2 linked regions of the Homo sapiens genome follow. The protein of the gene in region 1 purifies or fractionates together with the protein of each later gene. This does not show direct contact. Each region holds a gene or a part of one and is shown in the gene's direction. Other genes may lie near its edges.

Evidence for each region.
Region 2: the proteins of RINL (region 1) and SUGP1 purify together in Homo sapiens (affinity purification with mass spectrometry; one large-scale study listed by BioGRID and IntAct). This does not show direct contact.

Annotation. Positions count from the first base shown.
Region 1 is NC_000019.10:38,871,574-38,875,389, reverse strand, and holds part of RINL (ras and Rab interactor-like protein), read left to right. Parts: intron 1-1,401; coding exon 1,402-1,504; intron 1,505-3,519; coding exon 3,520-3,592; intron 3,593-3,678; coding exon 3,679-3,743; intron 3,744-3,816.
Region 2 is NC_000019.10:19,296,506-19,300,321, reverse strand, and holds part of SUGP1 (SURP and G-patch domain-containing protein 1), read left to right. Parts: intron 1-2,977; coding exon 2,978-3,333; intron 3,334-3,816.

The DNA of each region.
Region 1 (3,816 bases):
TAAAGGTTTTCACAACTGATTCAGAAAATATAGATGGCTGGCCGGGTGTGCTGACTCACGCCTGTAATCCCAGCATTTTGGGAGGCTGAGGTAGGAGGCTCGCTTAAGCCTAGGAGTTCAAGACCAGCCTGGGCAACAGAGCAAGGCCCAGTCTCTATTAAAAAAAAAAAAAAAAGAAAAAAGAAAAAAAAAAGGATGGGGCCCAGGTAGCAATATTTTTAATTTTTTTATTTATTATTTTTATTATTATTTTTTGAGATGGAGTCTCCCTCTGTCACCCAAGCTGGAGTGCAGTGGCACGATATTGGCTCACTGCAACCTCTGCCTCCCGGGTTCAAGCGATTCTCCTGCCTCAGCCTCCCGAGTAGCTGGGATTACAGGCGCCCGCCATTACACCCGGCTAATTTTTGTATTTTTAGTAGAGACTGGGATTCACCACGTTGGCCAGGGTGGTCTCGAACTCCTGCCCTCAGGTGATCCACCCGCCTCGGCCTCCCAAAGTGCTGGGATTACAGGCGTGAGCCACCGTGCCCGGCTGTAGCAATATTTTTAACAGCTCTCTTGGGACGTATACAGCCAGAGCTAAGAACCACCACCTATATCAATCATGATCCATATATCAATCATACTCATGGCTGGGTATATTAATGCCGTGAACAAGGAATTCTGCAAGGAATGTGGAATAGGTTTGGAGACGACAGCAAACGGGGGCTACCACAGCTTCCTCCTCAGGAGGGTATCATCCTTCCCAGCTCAGAGCTGTATCCCACCAGTTTAGCAACACCAGTGTAACAAATGAAGTCTTTCCAAAAGAGCTCCAGCACGCAGTGGCTCACGCCTATTATCCCAGCACTATGAGAGGCTGAGAAGAGCGGATCACTTGAAGTCAGGAGTTCAAGACTAGCCTGGCCAATGTGGTGAAACTCTGTCTCTGCTAAAAATACAAAAACTTAGCCGGGCGTGGTGGCAGTCGCCCGTAATCCCAGCTACTTGGGAGGCTGAGGCAGGAGAATCGCTTGACCCCGGGAGGCGGAGGTTGCAGTGGGCAGAGATTGTGCCACTGCACTCCAGCCTGGGCGACAGGGCAAGACTCCGTCTCAAAAAAAAAAAAATCCTGTGGAAGATGTCCATTGGCTGAGCTTGAGTCACATGCCTGTTCCCTGAACCAAACAGTGGGCCGAGAGCACCCTCATCCTGTTGGCTAGATCAGGTCATGGGCCCACCCCGCCAGGGCTTGGGGGAAGTCAGCCCAACACACATGGACTGAAAGTAGGGAGAGGGTTTCCCTAAAGGAAATTTGGGGTGTGGAACCCAAAATAAGGGAAATGGATGCTAGTCAGGCAAAAGCAACAGACATCTGCGCACACCTTTGTCACGCTGGCCTTTGTCTCTATCCCCCAGAGTTTCTTGGTCACAGGACGTGACCCCAGCCAGGCCCTGGTGTTGAGGTCAGGACCTTTACCAGGAGAAGTCAATACCTACCAGATCCAGAAGATTCCCAGAGGTAAGGCACCTCCCCTGAGGTTCCAGCCCACAGTCAATTGATCACTAAGAACTATCAGCTGGACCGGCGCGGTGGCTCACGCCTGTAATCCCAGCACTTTGGTAGGTCGAGGCGGGTGGATCGCTTGAGGCCAGGATTTTGAGACCAGCCTGGCCAACATGGCAAAACCCCGTCTCTACAAAAAATACAAAAATTAGCCGGGCTTGGTGACGCGCGACTGTAATCCCAGCTACTTGGCAGGCCGAGGCACGAGAATAGCTTGAACCCAGGAGGCAGAGGTTGCAGTGAGCCAAGATCACACCACTGCCCTCCAGCCTTGGCAACAGAGGGAAACCCTGCCAAAACAAAACAAAACAAAAACACCTGTCAGCTTTGTTTCCAAAATATCTGATGAATATTTCCAATCCTGTCTCCCTTTCCTTCCCACAATCCATTCTGAGCCCAAGATATTTTTCAGTATCAATCAGATGTTATACACCCCTGCCCCAAATCCTGCAAAGAGCATGCAACGTCCTTAGATACAAAATGTAAACTCCTTGTCATGATCTATAAGGTGCTGTGTGATGTAGTTCCTTCCTGTCTCTCTATCTATTGCCCCTCATTCACTCTGCCCCATACACACTGTTACACTCTGTGTGTCTTTAGCATGCTAAGTGTGTTCCAGCTTCAGGACCTCTGCTTGGGTTCATCCTGTATGAATGCTTTTCCTAGAGGGGCTGGTTTAGTCTCCATCCTCCAGGCCTCTGCAGAAATGTAACCTTTCTTGACCATCATAGTTAAAAGATGGCACCTTGGTCACTTTCTTTTTCTTTTTTCTTTTAGACAGAGTCTCACTCTGTCGCTCAGGCGGAGTGCAGTGGCCCAATCTCAACTCACTGCCACCTCTACCTCCCAGGTTCAAGCAATTCTCATGCCTCTCAGCCTCCCAAGTAGCTGGGATTACAGGTGCACACCACCACACATGACTAATTTTTTGGTTTATTTTTATTTTTATTTATTTATTTTTTATCGTACTTTAAGTTTTGGGATACATGTCCAGAATGTGCAGGTTTGTTACATAGGTATACAGGTGTCATGGTGGTTTGCTGCACCCATCAACCCATGATCTACATTAGGTATTTCTTCCTAATGCTATCCCTCCCCTAGGCCCCCACCTCCCAATTTTTTGTATTTTTAATAGAGATGGGTTTTGCCATGTTGGCCAGGCTGGCTTGAACTCCTGACCTCAAGTGATCCACCCACCTCAGCCTCCCAAAGTGATGGGATTACAGGCGTAAGTCACCATGCCTGGCCTCTTGGTCACTTTCAATCACTCCATTTTCTTCATAGCACTCAATACAATATCCACTTTGTTTACTCGTTTTTAAAATTTATTTTTATTTATTTATTTATTTATTTATTGAGATAGTCTCACTTTTGTCGCCCAGGCTGGAGTGCAATGGCTTAATCTCAGGTCACTTCAACCTCCACTTCCCGAGTTCAAGTGATTCTCCTGCCTCAGGCTCCCAAGTATCTGGGATTACAGGCGCCCACCACCATGCCCAGCTAATTTTTGTATTTTTAATAGAGATGGGGTTTCGCCATGTTGGCCAGGCTGGTCTCGAACTCCTGACTTCAGGTGATTCACCCACCTCGGCTTCCCAAAGTGCTAGAATTACAGGCGTGAGCCACCGTACCCTGACTGTTTATTCATTTATATTCTGCCTTTTCCCCCTCCGCCCCCCGCTAAAAGGTAAGCTACAGGAAGGCAGTGAACTTGTCTGCCTTTTGATAACTGTATCTCCAGTGCCTAGAAAGGACTAAGGGCTCAGTAAATGTTTGTCTAATGAATGAATCCTTGTTGGTGGCATAAGTGGTACACAAGAGTAAAGATGGAGACTCCAAAGAGTGGGAACTTCCCTGTTCTGAAGGTCCCTGGGGGGATTCTGAAGGAATGGAGGAGCAAGAGCATCCCAGGGGACAGAAAACTGCCACCACTCAAGTTTACTTTCTCCTTCTTCCTCCCCCCACCACAGGTGTGTCCCTGGAATCCTCCAACCTCTGCATGCCAGACCTGCCCCATCTCCTGGCCTTTCTATCAGCCAGCAGGTACAGGTCACCCATCTGAGGCACTAAGGGGGACCCTTCCCTAAGACACCCCACTGACACTGTGGCTCCCACCTCTTTATTCTCAGGGATGTTCTGCCCAGAACCCTGCTCTTGCCCCCTCCCACTCTAGGGCCCAGAGATGAACACACAGGTGAGGCACGGTTCTCTAAAGAGGGCACAGCCAACCTGCCAATTTCCTTGCTCCAAGGGAATGAATGGGGCTT
Region 2 (3,816 bases), about 20 Mb from region 1:
AGTGGATCACCTGAGGTCAGGAGTTCGAGAACAGCCTGGCCAACATGGCGAAACCCCATCTCTACTAAAAATATAGAAATTAACTGGGCATGGTGTCATGTGCCTATAATCCCAGCTACTTGGGAGGCTAAGGCAGGAAAATCACTTGAACCCAGGAGGCAAAGGTTGCAGTGAGCCGAGATGATGCCATTGCACTTCAGCCTGGGTGACAGAGCAAGACTCCATCTCAAAAAATAAAAAATGAGGCTGGGCTTGGTGGCTCACACCTGTAATCCCAGCACTTTGGGAGGCCGAGGCAGGTGGATCACCTGAGGTCGAGAGTTCAAGAACAGCCTGACCAACGTGGAGAAACCCCGTCTCTACTAAAAATACAAAATTAGCGCATGCCTGCAATCTCAGCTACTTGGGAGGCTGAGGCAGGAGAATGGCTTGAACCCGGCAGGCGGAGGTTGCGGTGAGCCAAGATTGCACCACTGCACTCCAGCCTGGGCAACAAGAGTGAAACTCCATCTTGAAAAACAAAACAAAAAAAAAATGAAAAGCTGGAAACGCCCATCCCTTGGACTAGTCATTCTCCCATTTCTGAGATACATCCTGGAAATCATGTCAATAGAGCATCAGCTGTAATGAAAAGTCAGTAGGCCGGGTGCGGTGGCTCATGCCTGTAATCCCAGCACTTTGGGAGGCTGAGCGGGGTGGATCACGAGGTCAGGAGATCGAGACCATCCTGGCTAACACAGTGAAACCCCGTCTCTACTAAAAAATACAAAAAAAAAAAAAAATTAGCCGGGTGTGGTGGCGGGCGTCTGTAGTCCCAGCTAGTCAGGAGGCTGAAGCAGGAGAATTGCCTGAACCCGGGAGGCGGAGCTTGCAGTGAGCTGAGATTGTGCCACTGCACTCCAGCCTGGGCGACAGAGCAAGACTCCGTCTCAGAAAAAAAAAGGAAGAAAAAAAAGAAAAGTCAGTGACACAGTCAGCGTCCAACCTCTGTGGGTTAAATCATCAGCACATCTCCCCAGTGGAGTATGCCGCCTTCAGAAGGCACCCATGTGAGCTGGCAGCCCAGTGTGAGGGAACTGAAGCAAGGCCAGTCAGTGAACATGCTTCCACTGTTCTAATAGGAAAGGCTTATGTCATCAGCTTGAGGCAGAAATTTTTTTTAAAACTGGGATATGTATAGGATCACAGCTCTATTAAGATAAATCTTTGCTGAAACTGGCAGGAAACACCTTAACAGTGGTTATCCCTGGGTTCAGGGTGGGATTAGTTCCACCAGAGGGGAACCTTGGTGGTGCACCCAGCCGTGTTCTAGATGGGGTGTTGGGGGGCTCCACTTTCTCCCCCTCATGGGGGTCTACCATTGAGTGCCATTGTAACCCCCTCCCCGAGATGGGCAGACCCTCCAGGGGACTGTGATGCATCCTTGGACCATCCTGGAGGACACTCAGGGTGAAGCACCAGCTGAGACCAGGAAGGGGCCCCCACACCCCGATGCCTGCTCGCCCTAGCAAGTGAGCCTCCCCAGCTTGGCCTCTCAAATCCATGTCTGAACTCACCCGGCTGTCAAGTGTCTTTTCCAAATCTGACCAACTGTTCCCTTCTCTCCTGAACAGTTGTTGCTTTTACCTCTTAATCTTTGCATATGTTCCTCACTGGGTCACACGTGTACCATGACCCAGGATTACAGAGAAGATGCTGTCATCTCCTGTCCTTCTGTCCCACCCTCTTGAGGTACCGGATGTTAGCAGGGCCGTAGACACACAGGCTCACCTAGAAACTGTCTAAGGGGTCTCTTGCTGCTCGCTCACTATTTATCTTATTTTTTTGAGATGGAGTCTCACTCTGGTCCAGGCTGGAGTGCAGTGGCCCAGTCTTGGCTCACTGCAACCTCCGCCTCCCAGGTTCGCGTGATTGTCCTGCCTCAGCCTCCCGAGCAGTTGGGACTACAGGCGTGTACCACCACGCCCAGCTAATTTTTTTATTTTTAGTACAGACGGGATTTCACCATGTCGGCCAGGCTGGTCTCGAACTCCTGACCTCAGGTGATCTGCCCGCCTCGGCCTCCCAAAGAGCTGGGATTACAGGCGTGAGCCACCGCGCCCGGCCTCTGTAACACAAAGGGACTTCACAGCATCCTTGACCCTTTAATTCACATTAGTTGCACGCCTTGGTGCTATGACCATCCCTCCAGATTCACAAGTGCAGGTCCAGCCCCATCTTGTTCAGCACTGTAACATGCTTTCAGGGCTGTACATGCATTCAGTTCTCTCCCGTGTTCTGCCATGTGGAGCTGGGCCAAGACTCTCCCTTTTGGCATAGACCCCAAAGACAGTCCTGTGGACTGGGGATGTGTACGGTCCGAGAGGCGCCAGTAGGTGCGGAACATGGCTCTGAACCCAGCGCCACCTGCTGTGCTCCTCAGGCTGGGTAGGGACAGAGAAGACCTGTGCTCCCAGCCTCACTGGAAGCCACACTTCCCTGAGGCTGCCTGCCCCCACGTGGGGTAGAAATCAGCTCCTTGGTCCGTTCTGATGTTCATTGTCTCAAAGATGCATTTGAGAAGCCCTTGGGATCAAGACAAGTCCCTCTGCCCTGTCTCGTGTCTGGTGTCTCCCCACAATCTGAGATTTTTTGGTGTGAATGTCTCACTTTTCCCAGGCCCTGGGGAAGGGTCTGAGGGTCCCTGCCCTTTCCCTTTGTAGCAGGGTGAACAATGACAGTGTGATGGGTGCCTGATAAAGACAGGGTGAGGATTGGAGTGACTCAGTTCAAAGGAAGGGCATCGGGCCACCAGAACCAGCAGTCACTGCCAGGAGGCCTGGCAGGGCAGGAGGTCATGGTGGAGACCGTGACTATGACATGACCATATAGTGACCCTGGCCAACGTGGGCACACAAGGCCAGAACTGCTCCTGCCCAGAATCAGGGACAGGGCCTCGGGCCCAGCTGACACTGCACCCCCCAACTCTCCTTTGCAGCTTTCTGTATGAGCCCAATAGCCAAGGGTACAAGTACTACCGACAGAAGCTGGAGGAGTTCCGGAAAGCCAAGGCCAGCTCCACAGGCAGCTTCACAGCACCTGATCCCGGCCTGAAGCGCAAGTCCCCTCCTGAGGCCCTGTCAGGGTCCTTACCCCCAGCCACCACCTGCCCCGCCTCGTCCACGCCTGCGCCCACTATCATCCCTGCTCCAGCTGCCCCCGGGAAGCCAGCCTCCGCAGCCACCGTGAAGAGGAAGCGGAAGAGCCGGTGGGGGCCTGAAGAGGATAAGGTAGAGCTCCCACCTGCTGAACTGGTGCAGAGGGACGTGGATGCCTCTCCCTCGCCTCTGTCAGGTGGGCAGACCCTCTCCCCCTCCCTGTGTTGGAAGGGTCTGACTTCTTTCACTGAGCATAATGTCTTCAAGGTTCATCCACAGTGTAGCTTGTATCAGAATTTCATTCCTTCTGTGGCCATATCTTCCACTGTGTGTACATACCACATTTGGCTTACCCACTCATCTGTGAATGAACTCTTATATTCACAGAGGTTGTTTACACTGCTTGGCTGTTGTGAATAATACTGCTGTGACTATCTGAATCGTTTTCAGTTCTCTTGTCGGTATACCTAGGTGTGGAATTGCTGGGCCTATTGCAATTCTGCCTTTTTTTTCTTTTTTCTTTTTTCTTTTTTTTTTTGAGACAGAGTCTCGCTCTGTTGCCCAGGCTGGAGTGCAGTGGTGCGATTTCAGCTCACCATAAGCTCTGCCTCCTGGGTTCACACCATTCTCCTGCCTCAGCCTCCTGAGTAGCTGGGACTACAGGTGCCCGCCACCATGC